Linked DNA regions of Homo sapiens. The protein of the gene in region 1 purifies or fractionates together with the protein of each later gene. This does not show direct contact. Each region holds a gene or a part of one and is shown in the gene's direction. Other genes may lie near its edges.

The links.
Region 2: the proteins of REEP1 (region 1) and NCAM1 purify together in Homo sapiens (affinity purification with mass spectrometry; 2 studies listed by BioGRID and IntAct, with this or other methods). This does not show direct contact.

Annotation. Positions count from the first base shown.
Region 1 is NC_000002.12:86,227,486-86,237,962, reverse strand, and holds part of REEP1 (receptor expression-enhancing protein 1), read left to right. Parts: intron 1-5,160; coding exon 5,161-5,338; intron 5,339-10,477.
Region 2 is NC_000011.10:112,955,705-112,966,347, forward strand, and holds the start of NCAM1 (neural cell adhesion molecule 1 isoform 2 precursor), read left to right. Parts: upstream 1-5,715; 5' UTR 5,716-5,908; coding exon 5,909-5,960; intron 5,961-7,505; exon of another isoform or gene 7,506-7,756; intron 7,757-10,643.

The DNA of each region.
Region 1 (10,477 bases):
TGATCCACTCACCTTGGCCTTCCAAAGTGCTGGGATTACAGGCATGAGCCACTGCGCCCAGCCAGAATGTTTATTTCTTCTTATCAAAAAGACTCTTAGACATCTTTTTTTTGTCACTTTTATAAATACATTAAAAGGAACACAGCTGGGCACGGTGGCTCACACCTGTTCCAGCACTTTGGGAGACCAAGGTGGGTGGATCACCTGAGGTCAGGAGTTCGAGACCAGCCTGACCAATAAGGTGAAACCCCGTCTCTACTAAAAATACAAAAATTAGCCGGGCGTGGTGGTGGCCACCTGTGATCCCAGCTACTCAGGAGTCTGAGACAGAAGAATCTTTTGAACCTGGGAGGCAGAGGTTGCAGTGAGCCAAGATTGTGCCATTGCACTCCAGCCTGGCTGACAAGAGTGAAACTCCATCTCAAACAAACAACAACAACAACAGAAAAAACAAAAAGAGAGAAAGAAAATAAAAAGGAACGCATTAGCACAATAAGTGGTTAAGATCTCTCTAACCTCACTTTTTCACTTTCAGAGTCTCCCGAATCACTTTTCAGCTCGGCGTGTCAGTATCCACTTATGACCATGCCATATCATTCTCTGTTCCTTCTAGTGTGTTGGGTGATGTCGAGCTGTTGTTTCTGGGATTTTCATTCATGCCAGTTTTGATGCTGCCACTTTCTTGATCATACCAGAAAGTGTCAGTGAGATATGTGTTAGACAACTGAGATTCATATTCCTTTCTCAAACAGTTCTTAAATGGTTTGTTAATTAAACACTCAGGGGCTTCAGTTGTCCAGTTATGCCAGGGAGAATAACAACCAAGTATATCTATGTGTAGGCGTTGACAATGATGTCAGGGCGGCAGCAATTGTAAGACCCACCCCAATTTCAGAGATGAAAAATACGTCTTAAAATTGATGAAAATCTGCTGGGCGCGGTGGCTCACGCCTGTAATCCCAGCACTTTGGGAGGCCAAGGCGGGCGGATTACGAGGTCAGGAGATCGAGACCATCCTGGCTAACACGGTGAAACCCCGTCTCTACTAAAAATACAAAAAATTAGCCAGGCGTGGTGGCGGGCACCTGTTGTCCCAGCTACTCTGGAGGTTGAGGCAAGAGAATGCGTGAACGCGGGAGGCGGAGTTGCAGTGAGCCGAGATTGCACCACTGCACTCCAGCCTGGGCGACAGAGTGAGACTCCATCTCGAAAAAAAAAAAAAAATTGATGAAAATCATTTTCAAGAAGTCTAGGAGTAGGTGGGTGTTGTCATTATTATTCTGGTGACTTAGCGATGTCTTTTTAAATTTTAAAAATAGAAACGGGATCTACCTATGTTGCCCGGGCTGGTCTTGAACTCCTGGGCTCCAGAAATCCTCCCCCCTCATCCTCCAAAGTGCTGGGATTGCAGGCATGCACCACCAGATGGGCCTTCTCAGAGCTTTTAGTATGATAATGTGGCTCATGGAATTATGGGGAATATGGTATTAATGCTTTCCAAATTTAGAGAATCCAAATTTATTTCCCCAAAGTAGGGAAACCAATTTTGCAGAATACCAATGAACAACTCGTGGTTCTTCCCAGAAGACAATGGTCTAGAATAACAAAGATTCTGCAGAGCGGAGCTGAACAGACAGTGTGGAATGGGGTTTGTGGAAAGTGAATAGGAATGAGATTTTGTGTAGAGACTGAGAAGGGCTGAAAGGTTTACAAAAGAGAGAGGCATGTTGATTTTTTTTTTTTTTGAGATGAAGTTTTTGCTCTTGTTGCCCAGGCTGGAGTGCAATGGCATGATCTTGGCTCACTGCAACCTCCACCTCCCGGGTTCAAAAGATTCTCCTGCCTCAGCCTCCCAAGTAGCTGAGATTACAGGCGTGCACCACCACGCCTGGCTAATTTTATATTTTTAGTAGAGATGGGGTTTCACCATGTTGGTCAGCCTGGTCTCAAACTCCTGACCTCAAGTGATCCACCTGCCTCGGCCTCCCAAAGTGCTGGGATTACAGGCGTGAACCACCGCGCCCGGTCAGGCATACTGATTTTAACCATCTCAGAGTGTTTTGATGGGCAAGGGCTAATTTGTTTTCAGGAGTCTTGTATCTATGCCACTATAATTTCCTCTGACACAGGCCTAGGTTGATACTGAGCTATTATTATCTCCCTCTCTTTCCTAACCTCTGCCACTGCCAGTGTGATATTGGAGCTAGACTGGCTGGCTTCTGGGAGTTGAATGGAGCACTTTGCTAAAATGAACGTGTACGATGCCTGCTGTTGCTTTCTCTCACATATGTTGCTGAGCGACAATGAGCAAGAACTGGCAAACTGTGTTGAGGGAATTCGTCCCTGGCCGTTTATTTGGGCTTGGGGTCATGAAGCTTAGGAAGTGACCTTTTCCACCTCTGCTTTCAATAGCAACCTTTGTGTCTTAGGCAGCTTTCAATAGCTTTCAATAGCAACCTTTGTATCTTAGGCAGTAGCCACAGCATCAACATCATTATCATCATAGTTGACATTTTTGAAGACTAAATATGCAATGGGCTATGTGATGGGTATCTTAAGGATGTAATCTCATTGAATCCGCACGAGCAGCCGGCCATTTGGATCCTCTTCTGCAAATGAAGGTCTTGAGGTGGAGAGAGGTTAAGATCACTCAGCTGTTGAATGACAGGGCTGGAATTTGAATCAAGGCCTGACTCAAGAACTGCTGTTCTCAATCTTCACTTTCTGTAGCTTCTGCTAGGATACTTCTGTGTTGTATCTGTACATTTGTCGTTCTCCGCTTTCTCAGAAATCAAACTGTATTTTTGGTGTTTCATGTTAGCACCTAGCACCATGTTCTTGCCCATAAAAAGTACTTGGTAATTGTTGAACAAGTAAAGTAAACGAAGAAATGAGAGGATGAATGAAAGAGTGAGTCAGTGAACAGTTTGCTTGAACACTAACCTAACATTGAGTTACTCACTTATAATTAGCAGAATATTTTCTCACTCATTTCAGAATCAAGTTTTGTTCCTTAGTCATCAAATTTCTTCTAAATTCTAGATGCTGCCTAGAATGTTTCTGCGTAAAATAATCATGGATCATTGGCTGCTATATTTGAAGGGGTTATATAATGGGTGTCTGGCTGGTCCAGCCTCCATTTTGCTGGCAGAGACCACCCAGCTGTTCCTGCCAAGGACGTGAGACCTTGGACCCTTGCCCAACCATCACTCTAGAGCAGTGTCTGAGGCAACCAGGGTGATTTCTGTCTTTTTTCATATAATATCCTCCAAATACTTCTTGGCCTGGACTTACAATTCTTTTTAAATAGTTTTCTTTGTGTTATTGTTGTTGGTTTCCTGGTGACATGGTTTTTATATCTTTGGTAGGTTGGGAACAGATCTAGTTCATATTTTAGTGCATCTTGCTTTTAGTCTGGCACTTCTTTCTTTCTTTTTATTTTTTTGAGACAGGGCCTCACTCTGTTGCCCAGACTAGAGTGCAGTGGTATGATCCCGGCTCACTGCAGGCTCTACCTCTTGGGCTCAGGCGGTCCTCCCACCTCAGTGTCCCGAGTAGCCGGAACTACAGACATATACCACCATGCCCAGCTAGTTTTTAAAATTTTTTGTAGATACAGGGTCTCGCTTGTTGCCCAGGCTGGTCTCGAACTCCTGGACTCAAGCAATCCTCCTGCCTCAGCCTCCCAAAGTACTGGGATTACAGGCATGAGCCACCACGCCTGCCCTCTTCTGGCGTTTCTTCTAAACCTGACTGCAAGCCCCTTTTTTTCCCCCTCCCCTCTAATGAACTCATTTTGCGTCTGCTCCTTGATCCTATCTGGATTTTTCACTTCAGCGAATTGCTGTGCTTTGTTGGTTCATTTTCATTATTTTTTATATTAAGTAAAATGAAAAAAATCTTCCAAACCCTTCTCTCACCCCTGAAAACCTCTTACTCAACTGTTTTGGCCCTTGCTTATTTCATCAATCCCACCAGCAGCCCTCTTGTCAGCGGCTTGAATTGATTTTGTGCTGATTTGTTGGTTCTGTTATGTCTGTTGTGCAGTATTGTCCCCCTGTCCCCCAGATCTCTGGGACCACTCTTTCCTTCATTATCCAAGTGGCATAGAAAACCTCTCCCATGCCACTGCAGTGCCATGCACCCGAGGGAACCCTGCACACCCTCCAGGCTTTCTTCTTTCTGAAGATGTCTGAGTTCATTCATTTGCCTGGTAGTTACTTGCCTGTCACTTCTTGCTCCAAATCCTAGCCGATTCTCAATTTCCCCAGTCTCCTCCCACTCTCAGGTTTCCATAACCTCTCTCTGCAGCCCCTGAGGCACACTTAAAGCAATGCCACCATCCCTGAGCCTTCACTGTGATCATTTTCACTCTGACACATTCTCTCATCCAGACAGTGAGGAGCTGCTCTTTCGTAAGTAAAATGGATTGATCTTGCTTTCTAAATAAAAGAACAATTCCCCCCGAGATTAATTCTCTGTCTCCCTCAGAATATGAAATGGTTACAATCAGCAGGGTTTTTTTAAATCATTTTTTTCCTTTCTGATTCATTACCTTTTGGGTATTTTATGAAGCTGAAATGCACCAGCAGAAGTAAATGTGCCTCGTAGACAGTAATATGCTATACAAATAAAAGAAATTTCTGTTGTCAAACATTTAGAAAAATATTGTCTGTATTTTGTGTCCTTTGAAAATAATAAGAACCAAGCACATAGAATATTAGGTTTTGATTGCCTGACCAGATTCTCATGTACTGAGAAAAATGGAGATACATGTGGATTTTTATTTATGCAAAGCAAGAGAAGCAGCAGGTGGCCTGGAAGGAGTAGGAGCTGCAGGCAGTAGTCACGCCCTTGGCCCTGGGTCTGTCTGAGGCTCCGGATCATCATCGTATCATCGTATCATCATAGTGGTGTCTGAGGGTAGGGAGGGATCCTGGAGCCAAAGGAGCAATTACTGAGCCCCAGAGGAGGCCCTGGAAAATTCCGGGATTTGACCCTCTCTGTGTTTCCAGCAGCTATGTCTGGGCACCTGCGCCTCAGAGTTGATCCAGGTCTTGATTTCCACCTGGCTGACCATCAGAGCTCCCTCTTGGCCTTTGTCGAGTGTGACCTGTGGAGCAGGACCTCTGACGTGTGCCCCTCCTGTGTTGTATCCAGGGACAGGGTGCCTTATCGGAGAGACTGCGGAGCTTCAGCATGCAGGACCTCACCACCATCAGGGGAGACGGCGCCCCTGCTCCCTCGGGCCCCCCACCACCGGGGTCTGGGCGGGCCAGCGGCAAACACGGCCAGCCTAAGATGTCCAGGAGTGCTTCTGAGAGCGCTAGCAGCTCAGGTAGGTGTCACTTTACTTCCCCTCTTTCCCACTCCTTGGGCCTCGCTTTCATTGAGAGAGGCCCAGTCCGCAGTGTGGCATGCAGCCTGGCCCTGGCCCCACGGACCTGCCACCAACGGGGTGTCCATCAGATCATGCCAGGTCAGCCAAGGGGCGGAGCACCCCTCAGGCCCGGCCAGGAAACCAGCCTGGTGACTGATCAGGGACAGGGCTAGGTCACCTGCACCAAAGGGTCCCCTTTCCTCCATATGATTGTCTGGGGAATTGGGGGTAGTTGGGGGCTAGTGTCTAGGCAAAGCCTGGAGGCAGCAGGCACAACTGGACCTGGGCCCCGGGAGCCTTCTGTGTTGTCTTCTCAGACTCCGGGGAGGCATACCTGTTGATACCTAAGTGTTGTCTTCTCACCCGGGGCTTACTGCTCTCACGGGCCCTCTTCCCTGCCTGAATATTGCCTGTCCTCTCTCTCACTCTGCTGTCTCCTTCTCATCTCTGACCTCTCATGTACCTCACACCACCCCCAGCCTCTGCATACCAAGGGCCATGCTAGCTCTGAGTTCTTGTTCCTGTGGTGACCAGGACCTTACAGTAACCACACCTCTGCCTCCAATGTCTGACTCTGGTGTCACACGCCCATCGTGGGATTGCTGGTATTGGGACTGACCTGGGGACCTCGTTAAACATGCAAAGTCCTGGGCCCATCCGCAGAGGCTTCAGTAGGTCTGGGGTGAGACCCAGAAGTGTGATTTTCATTGAGATGCAGCCGTGTTTGGGACCCCCCGACATCGGATCCACCAGCACGGGTTTCAGGCTCATGGAGGGTGGGGGCACACAGTTTCCCAGGCTGCTCCTTGGGAGGATGCCAGGGGCCTTGGGTCTCAGGGGCTGAGCACAGCAGCTGCCCAGGACTGATGGTGGGGGGGTGGGGGACGGTTCTGGATCACCACTTCTGCCTCGCTGTGGTGAGAAGGGTGGGAATCTATGTCCACAATGTCTGTCTGGTGACTGCGTGGCCCTTAAATCTATAAACAGAGATGTCTGGCCACCTGTGACTATGCAGCCTGCAGGGGACACCTTGGCCATAAGCCCCATGTCCTGACAGACCCCATCTGATGCCCGGGGGTCTTAGCCATCAACAGGAAGGCATGAGGCCTGCGGCTGCCTGGGAATGGCAACTCATGCTCAGAGCCAAGTGCAGCTCAGGGCTCCGTCCATTTCCTCCCTCTCAGCAGTGTCCCCTTGGCCCTTCGCAGGTCTTAAGACTGTGGCTTTTCTGTTGGGAGATGTTTTAACCCTGTCACTGCTGGAAGCAGGGCAGGGTTGGGGAGGTGGAGGCTCGGCTGTGGGGGTGATGGCCACCTCAGGGAGGGGTTACCCCCCGAGGGACCCCCCCCCAGGAATGGAATCCCAAAAGGCCAGACAGGAAATGACCTCAGGGATCTTTCAGTCAAACCCAGTGATTTTACTGGTGAAGAGACAGAGGTCCAGAGAAGGGGACTGTGCAGGGTCACCCATGCTGGGCTGCAGTAGAGCGTGGCCTTCTGACTCCGGGGCCAGTGCCCATGGTCACTCACTCATCAACCATCCAGGCTTTGTCAAGCATCTACAGCTTCTGATCTGCCGGACACTGCCCCAGAAATAGGGATACAAAACAGAGTTAAGTCTCATCTCCACACTGCATCAGCTCATCATCTACCAAGCCTCAGATGAAAGCTGCCCCTTAGATGGAAAAGGGGCCTCAATTCAGTAAAACCCAGAGGGCAGAGAGCAAGAACCAGTGGGGTGAAGTTCGAAGGGGGTAGCCACTTGCTCGCCGCATGACCCGGGCGAGCTATTTACCATCTCTGCACCCTAGATTTCTTATCTACACAAGGAATGACACCCCTTTGTAGAGTTGTTGTGAGGCTTCAAATGAAACCAGCCATGTGAAAGTGCTTATGGCCATGCCTGGCGCCAGTGCATAGTAGCTGTTATCATTGTTCTTTTTGTAATTTGTCTCTCCTGAGAAGGCGCATTGTCATGCTGCAAGTGTCCAGGAGCAAAATGGGCCATCTTGGGAGGTAGTGAGGTCCCTGACATTGGAAGGACACAAGCCAAAGCTGGATGGTCAGGTTCGAGGGAGGGATTCCTGCTTTGGCTAGGAAGCGGGCTTAGGTGGCCCTGGCGTCCCTTTGCCTCTAAGAGTCTGTGTTGCCATTTTAGAGGTGAGCCCAGTGGAGGAAGCAGGCTCAGAGAGGTTGTGCACTGGGCTGAGGCCCCCAGGCCCAGAATCCAGGCCTCCTGCCTAGACCTCCCCTGGTGAATTATTCAGGGCAGCCTCAGAACTGGGAATGCAAGAAGCTGGCAGGGTCTGCAGGGAGATGGCAGTGTCTTCTGGGCCTGGAGTATCTTCCCAGCCCAGCATCAGGTAGAAAAGCATTTGGGATGATTTGCTTTGGCACTGGCTCTGCCACTCTCCATGAGCAGAGGTGATGACGTCCCCTGCCATGCCCCAGGGAGGCAGTGGGGAGTGTTCTGGCTGTCCCAGGCTGAGAGGACCAGCTGTGCTGCATTATGCCCCAGCCCTCCTCACTGCTGGCCCCCTTGGCCTCCGCACCTATGACCACAGGGGGCAAAGAGGAAAGGTGCAACCCAGCAGGGAGGCCAAGGACAGTGTAGTGCTCTTTCCAGCTGTTCTGGAGCCTAAAATAAAAGCCATCTCAAAAAGGAAGACAGGAGCTGGGTGTAGTGGTTCACGCCTGTAATCCCAGCACTTTGGGAGGCTGAGGAGGGTGGATCACCAGAGGTCGGGAGTTCAAGACCAGCCTGACCAACATGGAGAAACCCCGTCTCTACTAAAAACACAAAATTAGCCAGGCGTGGTGGTGCATGCCTGTAATCCCAGCTACTCATGGAGTAGCTGAGGCAGGAGAATCGCTTGAATCGGGGAGGCGGAGGTTGCAGTGAGATGAGATTGCACCATTGCACTCCAGTCTGGGCAACAAGAGTGAAACTCCATCTTTAAAAAAAAAAAAAAAAAAAAAAAAAAAGGAAGACAGGTGAAAGATGGCCTGGGGCGTGGATATGGGGCAGAATTTCCTGGGTCAGAGGCTCTTGGGCTATCATACCCTGAAGTAAGGTCAACATGCCTAGGAGGAAGTCTGGCAGAGGAAGCCAATTTATACCGGGCTGGTGTACTCTCCCCAGCTCAGCCCCCAGTGTGGGCCTCAGATGCCAGGCCAGATCAGGTAGCAGAAAGGGCCCCAGAAAAGGGGAAGAGGCTAGACTTCATCCTGGCTGGGTGATGCCGGGCCTGTGCAGACACAGCAAATGCAGCACAGCAAGGCATGCTCCTTCCTCCTGAGCCTCAATTCAGCCTCAGAACTTCTCTCAGAACAACCCAGGCAGTCGCTACCATAGATTTGGCCTTGGCACAGAGGACAGACCTGATTCCCTCAGGCTTTCTTCTTTGTAAAAAAGACCGAATAGTCCCTATTCAGCCTATGTCTTAGGGTTGTGAGGAGAGCAAACCAGAGAATTTGCAAACCCTGGACAGGTGGCAGGGGTTGAAGACAACCTGGAGAGAGGTGGGAGCTGCACCTCGTGGAATTCTCTGCAGCTGCTGGAAGCAACAGATTAAGGGTGCACACAGTGGAACTTGAAAGCATGATGCCAGGTGAAGAAAAGTGCAAAACAGAATGAGATTTTATCTAACAATTTATGTAAAAAATATATGCCTATCATGCAAAGTAACAATACGGAGTTTATATGAAGAACATGTTCAAACAAAAAGTTGCACATTAAAATATTAAAAGTGACACTCCTTGAGGAGGAAGGAGAATGTGAGTGGGGTGTGGGAATAAAAGTCATGTAAAGGCACATAAAAAGGGTTGCCAGGCGCGGTGACTCACGCCTGTAATCCCAGCACTTTGGGAGGCCAAGGCGGGTGGATCACCTGAGGTAGAGAGTTTGAGACCAGCCTGACCAACACAGAGAAACCCTGTCTCTACTAAAAATACAAAATTAGCTGGGCGTGAAGGCGGGTGCCTGTAATCCCAGCTACTCGGGAGGCTGAGGCTGGAGAATTGCTTGAACCCGGGAGGCAGAGGTTGCGGTGAGCTGAGATCATGCCATTGCACTCCAGCCTGGGCAACAAGAGTGAAACTCTGTCTCATTAAAAAAAAAAAAAAAAGTGAAGGGGATCCCATGAACCAGTGTGGACCATTTGCTGTGAGCCAAGAAGGGACATCCATGTGACCTCCTGCATCTTGAGAAAAGGGAGGAAGATGCACACAAACGAGGAAGGGAGGAAGGGGCACAAAGACTGTCCCTGCACGGTCACTCAGCGCTGCAAGCTCCTGGCAGGCAGACAAGGGTTCTGTGCTTCCCTCTGTAAATGCCTACCCAACATACTCACCACATGCCTGGCACACAGAGACCTCTGTATGTGCAGTGAGGACACAGGGTCTAGGCGTTGGAGAAGGGGAAGGAGAGTTCTTTCCTGTTGCTTTCAGCACCCAGGATGGGGCTGGGCAGTGTACTTGGCCTGACCCTCTCTCTTGCCTGGAGTTTTCCTCTTTGCTTAAAGGGTCAGGGCAGGCAGGGACTGACATGGCCCTCCCTGCAGAATGAGCTGGAAGGTGTGTAGTCAGATACCATATGCTGAATGCCTAGCACTGGACACCAGGAAGTGTACAAGAAATGTTGAAAGAATGATCCTGGCCTTCCATGGACTTGGAGTCACTCAGTGAGCATGTATTTAGTGAGCACCTACTCTATTGCCAAGGCCCAGATGTGCACCAAGACCAATGGCGTGTACAAGGCAGCAGCCAGTTAGGCCTTTGCAAATGCCCAGATGCGAAGCACTTTGGGGTTCAGAGGTAAGTCTGGGGAGGTTTCCTGGAGGACATTCTGAACTGGAAAGCAAAGAGAGGAGGAGGCTTTGGGCAGGGGTGCTTGGAGTTATTTTCCAGAGGGAACTTTGACTCTGTCTCCGGCCTTCCCTAGGGCTGCAGGGTGCAAGGACTGACTTTGTGTGCCAGGTGAGGGTATCTTCTGCACCTGAGCAGAAACTGAATCTGAGATGACTCTTTCCCCACTTTGGTGTCTCTACAGAGACCCACCTTCCTGGGATCCCTATATTGTACACACTGGGATCCCCAC
Region 2 (10,643 bases), on another chromosome or scaffold:
TTTCCTGATACAAAATTAATGTACACAAATCAGTAGCTCTCCTATACACCACCAGCAACCAAGCTGAGAATCAAATCAAGATCTCAACTCCTTTTACAATAGCTGCAAAAAAAGTAATAATACTTAGGAGTATACCTAACCAAGGAGGTGAAAGACCTCTACAAGGAAAACTACAAAACACTGCTGAAAGAAATCATAGCTGACACAAACAAATGGAAACACATCCCATGCTCATGGATGGGTAGAATCAATATTGTGAAAATGGCCGTACTGCCAAAAAAAATCTACAAATTCAATGCAATTCCCATCAAAATACCACCATCATTCTTCACAGAACTAGGAAAAAACAATCCTAAAATTCATATGGAACCCAAAAGGAGCCCGCATAGTCAAAGCAAGGCTAAACCAAATTTACTATTTTGAAGTATAGCTAAAATCATGTAGTGGGGACTATGCTAAGCTGTTCAAAGCCCCCCTTCAGGGCTGGAGGGCTTACTCCAGATGCTGGGGATGCCCTCCTTCAGCTGAAAAGAATGACCTCTCACAAGGCCAGGTTGCATTCTTGGGGTGGCTTGAATCGGGTGATCAGTCAATATGAGGATATTACAACTATTTTCAGACCTCTCAAGGTGGGGCTGAGGTTTTGTGGTGCCTGCCCTGAGGCCCAATTTCCTCTTCTTTATTAGTAACCTGTTTATTTCCCTTCCCACACAGATGTTGATCCTGAAAGTAATTCCTAATAAACTTTCTGCACAATTAAAAAAAAAAAGGGAAATGAAAACAGCACCTCTTCCTTGATGCTTTACTTCCACTGATGCCAGAAAAAAATCATCATAACAACTGCATAAATATATGATGGGTGGGATTTGCAAAACACCCCTTGAAGCTGTGCAGTGCACAACCCACACAAAGGAGCACTGGTTCTATGTCAACCTCTGTCTCATTTCTCCCGCGTTTGGGAGTCCCCAGCACCATTGAGCTGGATTGACTGATGAGTGCCCGCTAGTCTTTAACCAGTGCCTGAGCCAGCCTTGAACAGGGAGGAAGCACATCAGTTGCCCCAGCCCCGCCATGGGTTAGAGTTTGTAAGTAATTTCTCACGTCAATCAGATTTGGAACATGAGAAGCTAAGAGTGAGCTGGGAGGGTCCCGAGAGACTTTCACTCTTTAGCTTTGTGGGCTCAAGTTTACCTCCTGGTCCTTACACTTTCCTGGCTCATGCTCAGTTCTTTGGATAAGCCAGAGAATAAATAGATTAAGTTGGACTTTCTCAAAATTAAAAATGTTACTATATGGAAAAAACACTATAAACAGAGTGAAAAGGCAACCCATGGAATAGGAAAATATTTTCAAATCATATATCTGATGAGAGATTGGTATCTACCACATATAAAGAATTCCTATGACTTAACAATAACAGAACAAACAACCCAGTAAAACAAACAAACAAACAAACAAACAAAAACGGGAAGAAGATTTTCAGCCTCTCTTAGCCTCAGGTCTTAAGTTGTCTTAAGACCTGTCTCTTGTGTTGGTCTTAAGATGCTGTGCTTCTCAGACTCCATTTTGCCTGTATCAATAGTGAAATAAAGTTCTTAGGGTATCTGTGAGTCCTAAGATCAAACCTGGGGTCTCCATTGTCAATAACAATAGGAAAGAAGCTCTAAATTAGGGCACTATTCCAAGTTCATTTTTCAAGTTGTGTAAGTCAAGCTAGTGCATAAGGTCTTGGTGGTGCTGAGCAAGAGTTAACACCAATTTAACTTACTTTATAACCTGATAATAAAGTCCTCACATTAAAAGAGAAGAAAAGAAAACTGTCTTTTAAGCCTCCTTCTCCCACAAGCTTGCCTCCCTGCCATTATCCCACTACTCCTTCAACATCACACTGCTGGAGAGAGTAGTCCACACCCCTGGCTTCTCTCTCCTCCCCTCCCTTTCATTTCTGGGACCATGATGTCTCCTTTTCCCTCCATTCCATGAATACTGTTCCCCCAGGGGCCACTAAGGACTTTCCAATGGTCAAATTCAGGAAATTCTTTTAAATCTTCCTCTTTTTTGACCACCTCAAAGCTTTCTTCTTTAGGTTTTGTGACATTGTCATGTTTCAATTTTCTTTCTAGCTGTCTGTTTTTCAGTATTTCATTGATAAGTCCTTCTGCCTGTACCTTAAACATTGATGTTCTCTGGGCCCTCTCTGTCTGTCTTCCACACATTTCCACTTGGATGTCTCTGAAACATCTCAGACTTAGCATGTGCAGAGCTGACATCATTGCTTCTTTGCTTATCACCTGGTCTGAATCTGCCCCTCTTCTTCTGCTCCCTGTCAATGTTACCAGCAACTATTCAATTGCCCACACTGGACCCTTAGCGGTTGTCACTTTCTCAAGATCTGTATCACATACACCCGTATAGCTCCACTAAACAAAATGGTAATCCCTCTCCGCCCCAGACTCTCTGTCCCCTTATCTCTCCTTATTGCTTTCCTTAGCACTTATCACCATCTGTACACTACTAAATGTTTAAGGATTTATTCTCTGTCTTCCCCCATAAGAAGGAAATCCCATGAGGGCAAAGGCTCTACTTTGTCCACGGCTACATCCCCAGTGTCCAGAGCAGTGCCAGGCACTTAGTTGAGAATCCATAAATATTTGTTGAATGAATGAAAGGAACTTGGATTTCTTCCTCTGCCTCATACTTCCATCTTCACAACATACCCAGGTCCACCTGTTCTTATCTTATCTTGGAATTGCAAATCTGGGCTCCTTTTTGCCTCCTTTCCCACTGTCGCTTTCTTAATTAGTCCCTGTCACCCTATCCAGAGCTATCATGGCCTCCTAGCTTGTCTCCTTGCCATGGCTGTCTTCTTGGACCATTCTCTGCTTCCTCTCTAAAGAACTTTCTCTCTAAAGCACAGTCTGGAGTCTCCTTCCTCTGCCTCAATCCCATGGATGTTCACTTTGTAGATGCTCATTAATGTGTGCCTGACAGCCTGGGCCTCTCTCTGGGGAGAGAGGTCCAGTGAGGGCCACAGTTTTGTCCATTTTAAAATGAGGATCAGGAAGGGATTGAAACGCAACAGAGCTCACAGATGTAGGCACCGACTAGCGGAGATATACAGAATTGGAGACAAGTGACATATCCTGTTAAAAGAATTTGGGAGTGATACTGGGAGTGTGGACTGGAATGACTGGGGCAGCATTCTAGAATGAATCATTACAACAGAGATCAACAACCACACGGGGTAGGGAGGGGCTGGAGAGAGAGAGGGAAAAAAAAGAAATTCAGTCATACTCAAGTGAGATTGGATTTCCACACTTGCCTACATTGAAAAGCTAAAAATAGGGACATTTGGGGAGAAAAATAGTGAGGAGTCTTTTAATTCTACTGACAGGACTATAAGGAGGGAGGTTTGCAGGGAAGAATGTGTCTCTCACTCTTAGGGGCAAAATTGGAAAAATTTTTATTTTGGGGGCCCCAACCTTCACTCTCCCCACTCTACCCCCTGCCTGTTCTCTCTATCTTTCCTCACCATCAAAACCTCTTTTTTAAGGAAAGAGTCTGATAACATTCATTTACATAAATCTGTAATATTTAATGTGGTGATTTTAGATGTTAGAAGCAGAAGTCTGAAATCAAAGACACTTAAATACAGCAACCATTAAAAAAAGACGTATATAATTCACTGCATCTAGCACAGGGCTAAACCCAGTGGTTGCTCCGCAAATATTTGTTGAAAGATGTTCAAAAAAGCCTTATTTATATTATCAAACTCCACAAACAATATAAATATGCAAAAATGGGGAAACCATTGCAAAATCATCCATATGAAGAAATATTACATAGCTATAAAAATATCTAGAAAAGCTTTTTAATGATCCAGAGGAATAAATGCTTATACTGATGTTAGGCAAAATCAGCAGGATTCAAATTGCTACTATAATATGTCAATTATAAAAATCATATGCACATACAGAAGACAAAATCTATGAGTATCTCTGGAATCTGTGGGATTTGGGGTTATTTTTAGTTCTTTCTACTTTTCTGTACTTTTGAATTGTTTATACTTGGAATGAGAGAAATAGCCCAAAGTAAACGTTGTGGAAGATTTACTTGGGGGAAGAAATACTTTTCAGGGGTCCAAGCTAATTACACTGTACTGGTGTGGCCCACTTGGTCTATTATAGAGGAGGAAAGTGGGGAAGAGATGGGGCCTGTCCAATAAGGATGGATGTCCTGACAGTAGAGGATGGACTTTTAAAAACTGCTACAGCGGCTGGGTGCGGTAGCTCACGGCTGTAATCCTAGCACTTTGGGAGGCTGAGGTGGGCAGATCACGAGGTCAGGAGTTCGAGACCGGCCTGACCAACATGGTGAAACACCGTCTCTACTAAAAATACAAAAATTAGCTGGGCGTGGTGGCGCGCGCCTGTAATCCCAGCTACTCAGGAGGCTGAGGCAGCAGAATCGCTTGAACCGGGAGCAGAGGTTGCAGTGAGCAGAGATGGCGCCACTGCACTGCAGCCTGGGCGACAGAGCGAGGCTCCATCTCAAAAAAACAAAACAGAAACAAAACAAAACAAAACAAAACAAAAAACCTGCTACAGGAGTGGGGAGGCCGACCTTTGAAGAAAAACGGAGTACCCGGTAACATTAGTGCTTTAATGCCTTTGAACTTATGCAGACTTCCTCTGTTAGAGGGTTTCAGTGTTCTAGGCTAATGGGTTAACCTGACATCTAGAACACCTTTCTCACATTAGTTCCTTACATACCCAAGCCTTCAGGTGCTGAGACATGATTCTTTTCACCCCGCTTTCTCCACCCCCTACTTTTGAAAACACGGGTGGAATTTTAATTAAAGCCTATTGTGTTGGTACCTCAGTAATATTATACATTAATATCTTTAAGAATTAAGGTCACGTCCCCATGTAAGAAAATATTATTTAATGACGCTTCTATATCATAATACCTATATAAAAGCCTGGCTATTTTAATAAAGAGACCACAGATTTCAGAATTTATAAACAGGAAAACATTTTCTTCGGGTTATTTCTGGAAATCTCTTCCAAACATCGGAGTTTTCTTCTAACTTAAGTCTCTTCCCACCTCCTTCCCAGGGGATCTGCTGAAGGGTGTTGTATGTCTCTCTGTGGGAGAGCAAACTTCACAGTTAGGATAAAACAAACAAACAAACAATATCCAAACAACACCCAGCAACGGCAACCCCCATCCCTCTCCAAAGTTCTAATTTCCCGCACTTAAAGTCCTGGGCTATCCTTGTGTTGCAAGGATCTTAGAATCGAAATGGAGGGATTTGACAACTTTACCTAACCAAATCTAAAATTTTGCTTTTATTATTTACTAGTTATCAAAATATGCAAACTGCTGATTAAGGAAGGCTGGGTAGCAGGAGCGCCTGCGAAGGCGTAGGGTAGAAGTGTGAAAAGAAATCCCAGCTCTCCCAGGGAGACTGCGTGTGAAAGAGCCCGGCTCCCCCAAAAGCTCCAGGCCGCGTTTTGCAGGCTTCCGCATCTGCCTCCCCTGTCTCTCTTACCTCCTTGATGTTCGGCACTATTTGTGGCCGGCGTGGTGGAAGGACACAGTGAGGTTCTCACCCCCGCCCCCCGCTCCTCGCTCCCATCCCAGTTCCATCAAAACGAACCCGGGCCAGCGCAAGGATCTCCGAGTTGCGAGTGTGCTGAGGCTGGGACTGTCACTCATTCTCCGATCAGCGCGTGAACGCAGCTCGGCTGCCGCTGGCAGGAAACAATTCTGCAAAAATAATCATACTCAGCCTGGCAATTGTCTGCCCCTAGGTCTGTCGCTCAGCCGCCGTCCACACTCGCTGCAGGGGGGGGGGCACAGAATTTACCGCGGCAAGAACATCCCTCCCAGCCAGCAGATTACAATGCTGCAAACTAAGGATCTCATCTGGACTTTGTTTTTCCTGGGAACTGCAGGTACATTTTTTTTTTTTTTAATTCTCAATCTGGTTTGCTAATTACCCCTTCCTCCTACTCCTAGGAGGAACGCTATTATTTTGGGTGGTTTTACGTGGACTGCTAAGGCTGGTCATTTTCGTTTAGCTGTGAAAGGAGCGCGTCGCCCTTGCTGCCCAGCCGAACCCCGCTCCCTCCAGGGCTGCGCTGCACGGGGCTGCCTCCCCGAGCCGCCAGCGCCCGGCGCCCCTCCGGCGCGTCCGCCCTTCCCACTTTGTGCGCCCGCGGCGGTGGGAGCAGAGCCGGCCGGCTCCTGGGGACTCAGCGGCCGCGCTGGTGATGGGCAGCGCTCCTTCCCCAAAGGCGGGCGGCGGGGCGGGGGAGGTCGCGGCTCGGGTGGTGCCGCCGCACGGGCTCGGATTCCGAGGGGGAAGTGGCTTGTCAGCCCCGGCTCCGGGAAGAGTGAACAATAAGGCTAGGGCAGCCGCCCCAGATCGTTATATTCCTGGGTCTAATAAAGTCAGGATCGCTGCTTTGCTTCCCCCGCCCCAGAAGAATAACGGTTTGCAAAATGGGGCAAAATGGGCAGAATCGCACGGCCGTTGTTGTTGGTGTGACCGTTGTTGCACCCCAGTCGACATGACGTTAGTTTTTCATTTGCCAAATTGCTGGTTAGTTGCAAAGCCTACCCTCGGCCGCGAGCACTGAAGGATGGGAGGGTCGAGCGCCGCGTTTTGACAGGAGGAAGTGCGGAGGGGCGGAGGGCGAGGAGGGCGTGATTGGGGCTGCCTGGTGTGTGCGCGCGCGTGTGCGCGCGTGTGTCTTTACACGCGCCGCGTGCCCAGTGTTGCACGGGGCGGGAGAAGAATGGCAGGTAGCCGCCCGAAACACCTCGCCCTGTCTCCTTTCTTTGGGCGAGGTTCCCGATCCTGGCAAAGTGTGAACAATAGGGAGCTGGGAGGAAGACAGTAGTGATGCTGCCGCGGGTGGCGGGGGTTGCGCCGCCGCCCAGAGAACCTCGGCAGTGTGCAGGGAGGTGCATTTCATTTTGGCTATTTCCATCCCGGCCTCCCTGGAAAATTCTTCTGTGCGTGCCCACCCTCCCCTCCAGCTGTCATCCCCCCACCTCCACCCAAGGATTTGCGCTTTGGCTCTGATGGACGGGAGGGAAGGAAGAAAAGCAGGGGCCGCAGAGAGCTGGGTGGGTTGGGCGGACATTCTGGGCGGGGGGCGTGTGCTGGGAAGCGATCGAGGAAAGCCGGGCGGAGGGGCTGTGTGTCGCGGTCGCAGCTCCAGGTACCGTTGTACCTGCCCTGGACGGCCGACCCCCGGTTGGGGAGCGCACGGGGCGGGCCAGGGAGCACCCAGTGCGCCCCCTCCGCGGGCGGCACAAGAGCAGCGCTCGGCCGCCGCCTCCAGCCAACTCGGGTCCCTCCCACGGCGACCAATCAGTGCGAAGCTGGCTGGGCGGGAAGCCGCGAGAGGCTTTTATTGCGGCGCGGGTGGCGGCCAGGAGCTGCCAGGACAGTCTCCCGGTGCTTCAGCCTAACGGTCTCGCTCACTCACCGCCAAGAGAAACCCCGCCCTGCGGCCGGTCCCCCGCCTGCCCGGCAGTTTCCGAGGAAATAAAATGGAGACTAGGTGGTCACCGGGAGTGCTCCTGGTCCGGCCGCCCGTGCTCGCCCACTCTCGCCTCTTTCACGCCGACTTGGAGCATCCCACCGCCCCCGCCAGCGCTCACTCTCGCGCCGCGGAATCCGGGCCTGAGCGCGTCGCCGGGGAGGGCATCCTGGCAGGCACACCTACGCGCGTGCGCTGACCGGCCGACCGCGGGCCGGGGGCTCTACTGACGGCGGGGCGGGGCCGTGGCAGGGCCCGGAGAGGAGGGGTGGGGACCAAGCCTAGTCCGCCTGGCCCTGGGTCTCCGCTGCCACCTGGGCGGGGGCCACCCCGGTTATGCCCCTTTCCGCGGTGCCCGTGGGTGCCGCGACGCGACCTGTCCACATGGGGCGGGGGAAGGGGGGTGTTTTTGAGACATCCTCGCCCCCGGGTGGGAGCGTGACAATGGAGCCCGGATATTTGGTGGGCCTTTTGGGGGATCGCCTGGCGGTCCTTTCCATCATCGTGATGGGTACAGTCATCAGTATTTGGATCCCGTGGAAGTTGCAGGCCCAGGAATTCCCACTGGGATGTTCCTGGATGCCCAGGCAGGGGAGGCATTCTAACCAGTGTTCCCTGGAATGAAAGCGACCTCTTTCCTGGCCCGGTACCTTGAGGATGGGAAGAAGGCAGAACGTGAAACACATACAAGGTTGCTTAACAAAAGAAAGAAGTTGAATGGTTTTCCAAAGAGAAATAATTTCCCATTAAAATGTCTTTTGTACCATAGTTTTTTTTTAAAAAAATCAAAGAATTCAAGTCAAAGGGTTAGAATGAAAATGAAAACATAACAACAAGTATATATACATATGTATATATATCTGAGGTTTTTTTTTTGTTTTTTTTTTTTTTGTTTTTTTTTTGGACTCAAATGTAGCATGTCCAGGGCAGTGGTAACTGAGTTTGTGTGCTCGGCTGGGTGCATATGAAAATTTACATATAAGGCAAGCTAACCTTAATACGTCAAGTGAGTCCGATGGGCTGCCCCTCTCCTCTTTCTGTGTCCTCTGCTCTTTAGAAATACAATGAAAGGTTGTGCAATTGCATAGTAAATTTGAGTTTATTCTAGTATAAATTTTGGATGTTTTGAAGAATTGTTCGCTTGAACGATCTGGAATGGTTAAGTCACATGTTTACTTGATAATTTTGCAGTCTTCTGCCAGTTAAACTTGCAAGAGTCAAGGAATGGATAGGACTGGGTTTCTAACAAGATACCATCGGTTAAGAACAAAGAGCTACTTTACAAAAGCTAACATTGAAATCAAGTAGTATATATAATATCTCTCACTAAGCAAATTAAGGTGCGCTTCCACAAAGTTGACTGTGAGCACAGTTATAGTGAGCCATATATTTTTGTTGATTTTCATTTGAAGACTGAGAATGTGTGTTTTTAAACAGAATTTCACTGAATGTAATAAAGGCTATATAAGAATGTGGAAAACCTTTCACAACTCTAACCAAACCCTAGAAAGATTATTTTCTTTCAATAAATACTAGCATATTTAGAAATATTAATAACTGATAATTTGTTTTAAATCCAACAGAGTTATTAAAAACAGGGAATATAATCCAGACATTGTAGACGTGTGGGCTATGATTTATGTAAGTTTTTGAGTTACTATTCCCTCTATAAAGGTCTTAAAGATCTGCTAACCTAGCTAAGCTTCCATTAGTCTTTAACTGTTTTCTTAAGTTAATGCTTTATGAACGCCCTCTTTCTTTCCCTAAATTGTTGAACCTGATAACTTCCTTCCAGATACCTTTATCTAGGATTTTTTTTTTAAAAATGGAATACCAGAAAATAGCAGGACATATTCTTGTTTAGTAAAGGAGTTTCCTCTAAGTCTTACAATGATAATTGATTAAACTAAGAATATGTTGATTTAACTGGTGACTGGTTTCTTGAGTTTGATAGTTCAAGAATTAAGATAGTAATTGCAAAGAAAAAAAAATCCCACATCAAAACTGAAAAAAAAATGATGTGGGTGTGCTATTTGTAAGGGATGTGGGTGTTTACTGAAGGCAGCAATAAGAAGGAGAAATTAGTCTGTAGCACCCCCAAATTCCAAGTTTTGAACAGTGCTTCTGTTTGGAATCCATTTATCATTAATTGAATTCCTCAGATAGGTAATATGTAATTTAATGGAAGTAACCTATATCTGTATTTTTCTGTCACAAGGAACAATGTCTTAATTGCCTTTCAAAGTAAACAGCACCATTTTGTCACTCAAAAGCTAATCTTTAGACATGTTTTTGTTCACTACAGAACCCAGTTTCTCAAATTATAGAGAGCATTTTGTAAAATTTACACTGCTTAAATAATGGACTCTGGAATTTCTGATGCAACCACTTAATTTTTCAAGGTGATGAAGCCTCTGTTAAGTATGAGTTTGATAAATTTCTCATAATTTTGTCTTTAGTATTAAAGAACTGTGGCTGCTCTCCAGACTGAAAGTGGCTTCAATACTACTGGCAGGCTTCCAAAGACATTTTACAGACAGTCCTTTCTGACTTAGTGTAAAATAAGTGATTGAGTACCTGTTGCTAAAGAACGGGTTGCACTTTTAGGATCTTGAGCTTGTGATGGAGAGCAGAACCAATTGGCAGGCCAGGGAGAGAAGGGATCGCACCTGCCCCCGTCAGTCTGCGGGAAGAATCATAGACTAGGAGGAGACAAAGACATCTTATAAAGGCTCTCCTGCACCAGTTCAGCATTGCTTTTTTGAGCACACACATGTTTTCTGGTGTCAAGATAAATATTTTAATGTAAATTCCATAATTGATCATTTTTCAGTTTAGCAGTTATAACATATAGACTAAGGAATGTCTGGAACTTTAAAAGAAATGGCAGCACATTACAGGGAGCATTTTACTGATCTTAAAACTGGGTTACAAATTACACAAAATTGAAAACATTAATCACGTGGCTGTATAAAATGAAGTCATTTGAGCTTTTAATAAAAGTCACTAAGGTGAAAATTCCTTTGGTTAAAAAGAAAGAATTCTAAGTAAAATTCGAAGAAGAAAATTTTTTACTTTTCATAA